Homo sapiens: one gene and its partners. The protein of the gene in region 1 purifies or fractionates together with the protein of each later gene. This does not show direct contact. Each region holds a gene or a part of one and is shown in the gene's direction. Other genes may lie near its edges. The genes, in order: ATP6AP2, VMA21 and PICK1.

Evidence for each region.
Region 2: the proteins of ATP6AP2 (region 1) and VMA21 purify together in Homo sapiens (affinity purification with mass spectrometry; 4 studies listed by BioGRID and IntAct, with this or other methods). This does not show direct contact.
Region 3: the proteins of ATP6AP2 (region 1) and PICK1 purify together in Homo sapiens (affinity purification with mass spectrometry; 3 studies listed by BioGRID and IntAct, with this or other methods). This does not show direct contact.

What each region holds. Positions count from the first base shown.
Region 1 is NC_000023.11:40,594,456-40,598,105, forward strand, and holds part of ATP6AP2 (renin receptor precursor), read left to right. Parts: intron 1-2,793; coding exon 2,794-2,889; intron 2,890-3,071; coding exon 3,072-3,209; intron 3,210-3,650. UniProt on the Homo sapiens protein: Multifunctional protein which functions as a renin, prorenin cellular receptor and is involved in the assembly of the lysosomal proton-transporting V-type ATPase (V-ATPase) and the acidification of the endo-lysosomal system.
Region 2 is NC_000023.11:151,400,056-151,403,705, forward strand, and holds part of VMA21 (vacuolar ATPase assembly integral membrane protein VMA21), read left to right. Parts: intron 1-3,575; coding exon 3,576-3,650. UniProt on the Homo sapiens protein: Required for the assembly of the V0 complex of the vacuolar ATPase (V-ATPase) in the endoplasmic reticulum.
Region 3 is NC_000022.11:38,070,845-38,074,494, forward strand, and holds part of PICK1 (PRKCA-binding protein), read left to right. Parts: coding exon 1-47; intron 48-837; coding exon 838-900; intron 901-1,632; coding exon 1,633-1,766; intron 1,767-2,155; coding exon 2,156-2,248; intron 2,249-2,928; coding exon 2,929-2,979; intron 2,980-3,462; coding exon 3,463-3,607; intron 3,608-3,650. UniProt on the Homo sapiens protein: Probable adapter protein that bind to and organize the subcellular localization of a variety of membrane proteins containing some PDZ recognition sequence.

The sequences.
Region 1 (3,650 bases):
GCTGAGTATTATTTGCATTGTCATAATAATGAAATGATGCTGATCAAGTGAAAATTTTGATATAACTATTGGGTAAGAGTGGGGAGATAGAAACAGAAGCAGAGCGCATGGATGGCTCAGCGCATGGATGGGGCAGTGGTTGGTGATGTGAGAGAGCTAAAGCCTCATTTTCTATAATGGATAGTAAATAGACAAGACCTAAAATTGAAAAATCAGGAGATGTAATTTAAGTGTCTTATTTAGAGATGTTAAAAGCAAAAAAAGTCAACAAGAAAAGATAGTTGGAATAGATGCACTCCTAAATAATTCATGGGTTGAGGAGGAAATCACTGTGGAACTTTTTAAATTATTTGGAACTGAGTAACAATGAATGTAGCATTTATTTACAAAATTGGGAGGTGCAGCTAACGTGGTAAGAAAAGGGAAATTTATAGCCTTAAATGCATGTTTTAGACAATTTAGGTTGTCTAAGAATGGAAATTAATGAGCTAAAGAAAGCGGAAGAACTTCAGAGTAAATACACATAAAGTAGAAGGAAGGGAACAATACAGATCAAAAGGCAGATTATTTCACAGGGAGCATTTAAGTCATTTTTTATGTGATTTCTGTGAAAATCATTGCAGAAGATTTTCTTTAAAATTATAAAAATCCAAAATGCCATTTTGAGATTTTTATTAGCATGTAATCCAAAAATAAAGATTTAAAAACAGACTAGCCTCATTTTACATGAGAAGAAGCTGTGCTGTGTGAGGAGCTCATTTTATTGCTTGGCCCTGGTTGGCTGCTCAATGCTTTTCCTAGCAGAAGATGGTAAATGAGATAAAAGATTCAGGGGCAAACCCCACAAAACATAAAAATCAGAGTATCTTAGAATTCCATTTAACGAAGCTTCCATTTGATTAGCTAGCTGTTTTAGTTAGAATTTCAAGTCATACAGGTACAGAAATTTGAGGACAGATATGCATCTCCCTTACAATACAGTGAGAGAAAAACCATCATTCGATATTAAGCAGCCAAGCTTTTTACTTTTTGAGCTTAGCTGCCTATATAATTATTTCTTTTCCTTCATTGGTGTTCATTTGATTCATGAGCTGCTTCAATTTGATCGCTATGGACATGGTTCCTAATCTTCAACTTTCCTGAACCGAGCGCCATTTCACTAAGTGAAGTGAGGCTGGAAAGTTTGCATCATTTGCTCATGTATTCCCCTCACAGCCTGAGGAGGTAAACTCTATGATCGCTAAAGGAAAGCACCTATAGATGATTCAGGGCGGCTGCTAGCAGTATGCTTTTGCAACTTTGAACTCTCTTCCCCCTCTTCACTTACTCATTAACTCATTTTGAGAGAATTTGGGGAAGAGTTAATAAGCATCTTGAGTAAGAGAAAAAAATTATTTCATTTCACAGAATCATAAAATTGATCACTTAATATTGATGCTGGGCCTGGGCATGGTGGCTCACGCCTGTAATCCCAGCACTTTGAGAGGCCAAGGCAGGCAGATCACATCAGGCCAGGAGTTTGAGACTAGCATGGCCAACTTGATGAAACCCCGTCTCTACTAAAAATACAAAAATTAGCCAGGCGTGGTGGTGCGTGCCTGTAATCCCAGCTATTCAGGAGGCTGAGGCAGGAGAATCACTTGTACCTGGGAGGTGGAGGCTGCACTGAGCCGAGATCGCGCCACTGTACTCCAGCCTGGGCAACAGAGTGAGGCTCTGTCTCAAAAAAAAAAAAATGTGATGCTGGGATTTTATCAGTAAGACATAATCACATTGATTTCTGCCTGTATCATATTAGCGTTACTTTGCTACTTGTAAACATGAATCTTTAAGTAGTAAGGGAACTACTGAATGAAAGATCAATGTAAGAAATCTCCATTAAAACAAAAACATGACTGTACTGCTTGTTTTAATACAGTAATACTGGGAATGAAATAATTTTTTTAGGGGAAAAATAACTGTAATTTATTTTTTTAAATCATGTACTGCAAAACAAATCTATGGGGATAGAAGTCAGAATTTTTGTTACCCTTGAGGGTGGAGGTAGTACTTCGAGGGCGCTGATAGTGTTCTGTGTCGATCTGGCTGGGCTACCTGAGTGCATGCATGTGTAAACATTTGTTGAGCTGTTACCCCAAGATTTGTATACTATATTATATGTATTTTGCACTTTAATAAAAAAATTGAAGGAAAAAAGTAGGTCTTATCACCATTGGTTATTTCAATCTAATAATATCAACATGTCCTAAGATAAAGGCTTCAAAAACCTTGTGACATACTTAACACCTTATCTAAGAGTCTTTAGGCTATCTGAAGACAAATGTTAAATCTCATTAAACATTTTTAAAATTTTGAAATGAAAGATGAATTCCATTTTTATTTCAATTAAATTCAATACTCAGATTCCTCTAACCTCTTAAATGCAAATTAAATACTTTATTGTGGAATATGCATTCATCGTGGCACATTTAGTCAATATTGAAACCAAATGTATTGCTGCTTCAAATACATGAATGACCACCAGAAAATGGTTTGTGCTAGATATAGTGTTGTGTCCATCAGGTTTAAGTTATTTTCCACTGAGGCATGATGGGAGATACAGACTTGGCTTACCAGGGGGCTGTTTAATCTTCTGTGCCCTCAAAAGGGCTTGTTTGGAAATGATTTCGGGCTTCTAAATTTCCATAGAAAGTGCTGGAAAAAAGTTTAAGGCTTCTTTTTAAATACCATCTGAATGATTTTTCTTCCCACTTTGGTTCACATAATAATTGCGTTCTTACTCTTAAATTTCAGGCAGTTCCTTTTAGTCTTGACAGTGTTGCAAATTCCATTCACTCCTTATTTTCTGAGGAAACTCCTGTTGTTTTGCAGTTGGCTCCCAGTGAGGAAGTAAGTGATAAGGGTTTTATTCAAGACATTTTAAAAAATAAGCTTTTATTATTTGAAAATTATGAAATGTAATTTTATTATGAAAATATAAAACTAATTTATGAACAATGTTGTCATACCTCTGGGTATTGGAACTAATCTGTAGAATTTGAGCAACTTAAAATTTTCTATTCTTCTTACAGAGAGTGTATATGGTAGGGAAGGCAAACTCAGTGTTTGAAGACCTTTCAGTCACCTTGCGCCAGCTCCGTAATCGCCTGTTTCAAGAAAACTCTGTTCTCAGTTCACTCCCCCTCAATTCTCTGAGTAGGAACAATGAAGTAAGTGCAGTTATTCAATGAATACATGAATATCATTAATTTCCGTCTTTTTAAAAAATAGAGACAGGGTCTCACTCTGTTGTCCAGGCTGGTCTTGAACTCCTGGCCTCAAGCAATCCTGTCTTGGCCTCCCAAAGTGCTGGGATCACAGGCTTGAGCCACTGCATCTGGCCTCCCATTCCTTATACTACTTGAAATTTTGGAAATTTTGCTATTTTAGAAAATGAAAGATTGTGCACATTTACTGCTGGGGTAGATTCTTCTTTAGTGTAATTTTCTTATGACTCTCATGAATAAACTGATCCTTTTTGTGAGTTGAGCTGTGGTAAATAACATCACATTTTAGCACGAGGGTTGCCACCTATTAATTCAAACAAGCCAGAGGTCATAGATCTACTTGGTGACTGGTGGAGCTGTGTGGATCTGGTAACTTGGAAGCCA
Region 2 (3,650 bases), about 110 Mb from region 1:
AAATCTTATTTACAAAAGTCCCTAATACCATGCAACTTTATTGCCTATAGTCCTCTTGTACATTAGATATCTCACTTGTTAATCCATATATCTACTGCTTTGTGTCCTTTGATGTATATCTTCCTATTTCCTCCCCTCCAGCCTCCCACCCCCACCGCCATGGTAACTACTGTTTTATTCTCTGTCCCTGTGTAGTTGACCGTTGACCTTTTTTTTTTTTTTTTAAAGATTCCACATATAAGTGAGCTCATGTAGTATTCGTCTTTCTGCGTTTGGCTTATTTTACTTAACATGTCTTCCAGGTCCATCCATGTTGTGGCAAATGGCAGATGTCCTCTTTTAAGGCTGAATAAAATATTCCCTTGTATATATACACTACGGTTTCTTTATTTTGTCTGTCTACATACACGTAGGTTGTTTTCAAATCTTGGCTATTGTGAATAATGCTGCAATGAACATGGAAGTGCAGATATTTTTACGAGGTAGTGATTTCATCTCCTTTGCTTATATTCCAGAAGAGAGATTGCTGGGCTGTGTGGTAGTTCTATTTTTAATTTCTTTAGGAACTGTTTTCCATAATGGCTGTACCAGTCTACATTTCCAGTCACAATGTAGTAGGGTTTCTTTTTCTCCACACTTTTACAAACATTTGTTATCACTTGCCTTTTTGATAATAGCTGTCCTTAGAAGTGTGAGGTTATATCTCATAGTGGTTTTGATTTGCATTTCCCTGATGATTTAGTGATGTTGAGCACATTTTCATTTATCTCTTGGCCATTTTTATGTCTTTGGAGAAATGTCTGTCCAGCTGTTGTCCATATTTTAATCAGGTGGTTTTTCTGCTGAGTTGTAAGAGTTCTTTATAAATTTTGGGGTATTAACCCCTTACAAGATAGGTGGTTCGCAAATATGTTTTCCTAGTCTGTAAGCTGCCTTTTCATTTTGTTGATTGTTTCCTTTGCAGTACAGAAGCTTTTTAGTTTGATGCAAGCCGCTTTATTTTTTCTTTTGTAGCCTGAGCTTTTGGTGTGATATCCAAAAAATCATTACTGAGGCCAATGTTAAGGACCTTTCCCTCTGTGTTCTTTTATGTCTTAAAACTTTATATCTTTATGTTTTAGTTATTTTATCCATTTTGGGTTGATTTTTGTTTATGGTGTAAGAGTCCAGTTTTTTTCTTTGCATGTAGAAATCCTGTTTTCCCAGTACCACTTATTGAAGGGACTGTCCTTTCCCCATTGTGTTCCTCTTAACACCCCTGTCGAAGATTAGTTGGCCATATATGTTTGGATTTATTTCTGGGCTCTATTCTGTTTCATTGTTATATGTTTCTGTTTTTATGCCAATACCATATTGTTTTGATTACTATAACTGTAATATTTTAAATCAGAAAGTGTGATGCTTACAACTTTTTCAATGTTGCTTTGGCTATTTGGGGCTTTTTGTGGTTCTGTATGATGAATTTTAGGATTGTTTTTCTATTTTAATGAAGAATGCTACTGTAATTTTGATAGAGATTGTGTTATATCTGTATGTTGCTTTGGGTGCTGTAGACATTTCAACAGTATTAATTCTTCCAATCCATGAACACAGGATATCTTTACATTTATTTGTGTCATCTTCAATTTCTTTCATCAGTGTTTTATACTTTTCAGTGTACAAGTCACTCATCGCCTTGGTTAAATTTATTCCTAAGTTTCTTTTTTTTTGAAATAGAGTCTTGCTCTGTCACCCAGGCCAGAGTAAAGTGCCCCAATCACTGCTCACTGCAGCCTTGACCTCTGGGGCTCAAACAATCCTCCCACTTCAGCCTCTTGAGTAGCTGAGATTACAGGCACGTGCCACCATGCCCAGCGAATTATCAAAATTTTTTTTTGTAGAGGTGGGGTTTTGCTGTGTTACCTAGGCTTGCGTCAAACTCCCGGCCTCAAGCCTCAGCCTTCCCAAAGTGCTGGGATTACAGGCATGAGCCACTGAGCCTGGCCCCTAAGTATTTTTTTTTAATGCTATTATAAATGAGATTGTTTTCTTGATTTCTTTTTCAGCTCAGTAAAGGATGCGGAAGTTTGTCAAGTGCTTTTTCTGCATCAACTGAGATGATCCTACTTGGTCATAATATATAATCTTTTTGATGTATTGGTTTTGTTTGTTTGTGACAGAGTCTTGCTCTGTTGCCCAGACTGGAGTGTGATTTTGGCTCATTGCAACCTCTGCCTCCCAGGATCAAGGGATTCTTGTGCCTTGGCCTCCCAAGTAGCTGGGACTATAGGCACACGCCACCACTCTCAGCTAATTTTTGTATTTTTAGTAGAGACTGGGTTTTGCCATGTTGGCCAGGCTGATCTCGAACTCCTGGCCTCAAGTGATCCGCCTGCCTCGGCCTCCCAAAGTGCTGGGATTACAGGTGTGAGCCACCACACCTGGCCTGATTATTGTTGAATTTGGTTTGAAAATATGTTATTGAGGAATTTTGCACCAGTGTTCATCAGTGATGTTGTCCTGTAGTTTTCTTGCTGTGTCTGTCTGGCTTAGGTATCAAGGTGATTGGAGCCTCTTAAAACGTGTTTGGAAGTATTCCCTCTAGCTCGATTTTTCACCCATAACAGAAGTTCCTATTCCAGCTGGGGAGGGCGCACTGGTCCGTTCGCCCTGCCTACCTCCTTCAGTGGTCTGGTGTCTGGTGCTGGTGGTCAGGGTTGCTGCACGGGCTCAGGGACTGGTGTGGCAGTGGCTTCCCTGGGCCAAAGCTCTGATCCCAGTGGGGGAGGGCACGCTGGTGCGTCGGCTCCACCTGGTTAGTTTGCTGGTCCACTGTCTGGTGCTGGAGGACAGGAGGCTGGCAGCTTTCCCAGATGCAAGCTCCGATTCCAGCGGGAGAGGGCACACTGCTCCACCTGTGGTGCCTGCCGAGTTCCCTGGTCTGGTGTCCGGTGCTGGTGGTCAGGGTTGCTGCGTGGGCTCAGGGACCAGTGTGACAGTGGCTTCCCTGGGCAAAAGCTCTGATTCCAGTGTGGGAGGGTGCACAGGTGTGTCTGCCTCGTTAGTTCCCTGGTCCACTGTCTCATGCTGGAGGACAGCAAGCTGGTCGCTTCCCGTGACGGAAGCTCTGATTCCAGCAAAAGAGGGCGCGCTGATCCACCCATGGTGCCTGCTGCGTTCCCAGCTCTGGTGTCTGGTGCTGGTGGACACGGTTGCCGCATGGGTTGGGCACTGGTGCCGCTGTCCGCCGTGGCTTCCCTGGGTAAAAGCTCCAGTTCCAGAGGCAGGGGCACTGAGTTTCTTCACTTAGTTTGTTCACCCAGCTTGTTGGCAGTTGATCTGAGGTGCCCTGACGCTTCGTCTTACACTGGATATGAATGACAGTCCCTAAAGGTGGTGTATAATCTTCATGTTCCAGCTCAAGAAATTCCCACTACCCACAGCTGGTTCTCTAGGATCTTCGGATTACGAGTCCCTGCCTGTGATCTTCCTCCTGCATAGCATCTCATTTGTGGATGTTTATAGTTTCAGGGACATAAGAGCGTTTGGATATGACTGTGCAGGTTCTGATTTTCTCTTTGTTTACTTTATTCCAGAAATGAAAGCTCATTAGCATCTACACTGAAGACGCTCCTGTTCTTCACAGCTTTAATGATCACTGTTCCTATTGG
Region 3 (3,650 bases), on another chromosome or scaffold:
TGTCAAGAGGCTAGAGGAGCTGGAGCGGACCGCTGAGCTATACAAAGGTGGGTGGGGGGTGGCCTCGTCCTGGCACTAGCTCTACCCCAGGGAGCATGCTCTCAGCAGAGTGGCAACAGGGGTGCTGGCACTAGGAATGCCAGCCTACAAAATACTAGGACCATGGGCATTAAGAGTTCTTAAGAATATATACTTCTTCTGAATTTAAAAATAACTCAGGGGCCTGGTGCAGTGGCTCACGCCTGTAATCCCAGCACTTTGGGAGGCTGAGGTGGGCGGATCACTTAAGGTCAGGAGTTTGAGACCAGCCCGGCCAACATGGTGAAACGCCATCTCTACTGAAAATACAAAAATTAGCCAGGCATGATGGTGTGTGCCTATAATCAGTACTCGAGAGGCTGAGGCATGAGAATCGCTTGAACCAGGGAGGCAGAGGTTGCAGTGAGCCAAGATCACACCACCGCACTCTAGTCTGGGCAATAGAGCAAGACCCTATCTCAAAAAAAACAAAACCTGATACTCATAAAAATTCAGAGAATAGCACTTGTAAACATAGCGAGAGTCCCCCGGAATCCCACACTGTCCCAGGGCTAAAGCCCACAGCAGGCTGTGTACCCCTGCATCTTACAAAATGCTGGCGCCCCTGTCTGATGGGGCTCCTCACGGGTTGGGTCGGACTGAGCTTTTACCCCTGGGCTGTGGTTGGGCGGTGGGGAAAGGCCATGTATCAGGGCCTAGCAGAGGCCTTGGGTGGCATGGGCAATTGGAGGCCTTGCCCTGGGCCAGTGTGGTCCCCGCCATGCGTCCCCATTCCGCATCACTCGGTCTCTCCCACAGGGATGACGGAACACACCAAGAACCTCCTACGGGCCTTTTATGAGCTGTCGCAGACTCACCGGGGTAATGGCATCCCCCAAAGCTGTGGTGTGACCGTGGGCAATCCCTGGGGCCTCTCACTCCCATGCTGAGGTGGGTCAGACCCACAGCGCCTGACCTCAGGCTCCCTCTGGGCTGGGCCTGGTCCCAGGTGCTGGGATTTGCGATGGGCCTGCGGGGAACATCTAGATCAGCTGGTCTCTTAAGGGCCGCAACGATGAACAGGCCCCACCCTGTCTCCTCACACTGCCACTGGCAGTACACAAGGCCCTTGCTTATTTATATTTCTGACAACCTGTAACTCTGGGCAGGCCGACTGCAGCTGACCCCAGCTACTGCAGAAAATGAAGCCCAGACAAAGGAGAGGGCCACACTGCTCCCAAGTGGTGGAGCTGTTGTTCCAATCCAGGTGTCTAGACTCGGACCAGTGTTCTGCCTCAGGCGGCGCCACCTCCACAAACCTTGACCCAGTCTTCTCTCACTGGTCCCTCTGGGGAATGAGGGCCAACTCCCTTGGTGTGTACACTCAGGACTCTAGGGGGCACAGACCAGCTCTTGGAGGTGTCAATCCAGTTTCCTCCAGGTGTAGACTCAGCTCCTTCAGGGGGTTTAGACCAGCTCTCTTGGAGGTGTAGCCCCTGTGCAGACATTGGCTTCCAGCCTGCCAGGCCCCCTGCCCTGCTTCTCCCCAACAAACCCCTGGCTTCTCTTAGGGGGCCAAGTAGGGGCAGCCTTCAAGGCAAACTTGTCCTGCAGCCTTTGGGGACGTGTTCTCCGTGATCGGGGTGCGGGAGCCCCAGCCAGCTGCGAGCGAGGCTTTTGTGAAGTTCGCCGATGCCCACCGCAGCATCGAGAAGTTCGGCATTCGGCTTCTGAAAACCATCAAGCCGGTAGGTCCTATTGAGCATGTGTGTGTCTGGCGTGTGAGGGTGGGGAGGGGAGAGTGTGGCATGCAGAGAAGGTCGTATGCTGGAGTCCTGTGCCTGGGTACAGCCTCTGGCTCAGTCACCCACACAGTGGACTGTGGGTGAGTCACTGTGCCCCCTTGGGCCTTGCCATTGACCTCTGGGCTGGCTTCTGACCCTGGCTCGCCACTGAGTCACAGCTTGCCCTAGGCCTGGCACTAGTCTTCTCATCCTTGAGAGGGACAAGGCATCAGGGAGCACCATCTGGCTCTGATAGTCGAGTCCACCAACAAGGGTGACGCATCAGTGCCATTCATTGTCACCCTGGCACACCCCTGCCGTGACAGCCTCAGCATCCACCCACCCTCTTCCAGATGCTGACGGATCTGAACACGTACCTCAACAAAGCCATCCCGGACACTCGCCTCACCATCAAGAAGTACCTGGACGTGAAGTTTGAGTACCTGGTGAGTAGTCCAGGTGCCCAGGCTGCTAGGGCAAGCGCCCACCCTGGAGATCTGCCCCACTTCAGTCAGCCATGCTGCGGCCAGCGAGGCCAGCCAGAGCTGACAGCATGTCTGCTCCAGGTGTGGGCCCAGAGGCCCAGGGAGGTGCAGCCAAAGCCCTGCTGCGCCTGCACAAAGAAGCATCTGAGAGCCTGGGGCGGGCATGGCTCTCGCTGTGTGCACTCTGACCCCTTGGGATTTGTTGCCTTTAAACAATGGGTTAGACTAGGTGAGTGAGCATAAAATGGGTGTCAGTGAACGTTCGTGAGTTTTACATTTAATTATTCTACAGTCAAAGGAATTGAGAGAAAATGCTCTATTAAGCAAGCCAAGGTTCCTTTGCTGCAGGACTTATCAGAGCCTTTGCTAGGCTGATGTGCAGTGTGAATTTTCAAGGGTCTTCCTAAGCTCCTTTAACGACAGACCCCTTTTTCCCCAGAGCATCTCTTGGGCCTTGAGTTTGGTCAACTCGGCCGCCTAAGCCTCAGGCCCTGTCATCCCTCAGCACCTGCCGCTGCCCGCTCTGGGACTCCCTGAACACCTGCGCCAGCCTCTCCTGCTGCGTGTGGGTGATGGGGGTGGAGCTGGGGACCTGGGGTGGGGGTAGTAGCCACTCTGACAGCCTCACCTGTCCCACACAGTCGTACTGCCTGAAGGTGAAGGAGATGGATGACGAGGAATACAGCTGCATTGTGAGTGTTGGAGGGGGTGGGGGGCTTGTACTTCCCCCCACCTGGTCTGCCAGGGATAGCAGGTGGCTCAGGCCAACCCGGGAGAGACCGGGGGGACTTGGCTGGACTCTCGTTCCTGGAGATTTAGGGCCATCTTCCCAGTCCCGCTCGCTGGGCCTCGGGGTGCTGGGCACCCGGCCGGGAACCACTCCCTCAGTCTGGGGGACTCTTGGAGGGAAATCGGATTTTCTTCACTCCTATGAGGCGCTTTTAAGTGTTTGATTTTTCTGCTGTCGGGATCCATTTCGTGGCCAGTGTTCATTGAATGTGGCAGAGGTTTGGGTTTGGTTTTTTCCTCTCTTCAAAGCTATCACTGAGTGCTTCTGAGAAACACTGAAGTCTCAGAAATGAGGTCTCAGGAATGAAGAACAGCCGTGGCTTTGAAAGCACAGTGCGGTGCGAGGCCGTCCCTGAGCAGGCACTCCTGTCCCACCCCCGCCCCAGGCCCTAGGCGAGCCCCTTTACCGGGTGAGCACCGGCAACTATGAGTACCGCCTGATCCTGCGCTGCCGCCAGGAGGCGCGCGCCCGCTTCTCCCAGATGCGCAAGGATGTGCTGGAGAAGATGGAGCTGCTGGACCAGAAGCACGGTGAGCGCCGCCCTCCTCCCCGTCCGCTCTCCATTTCAGAGGT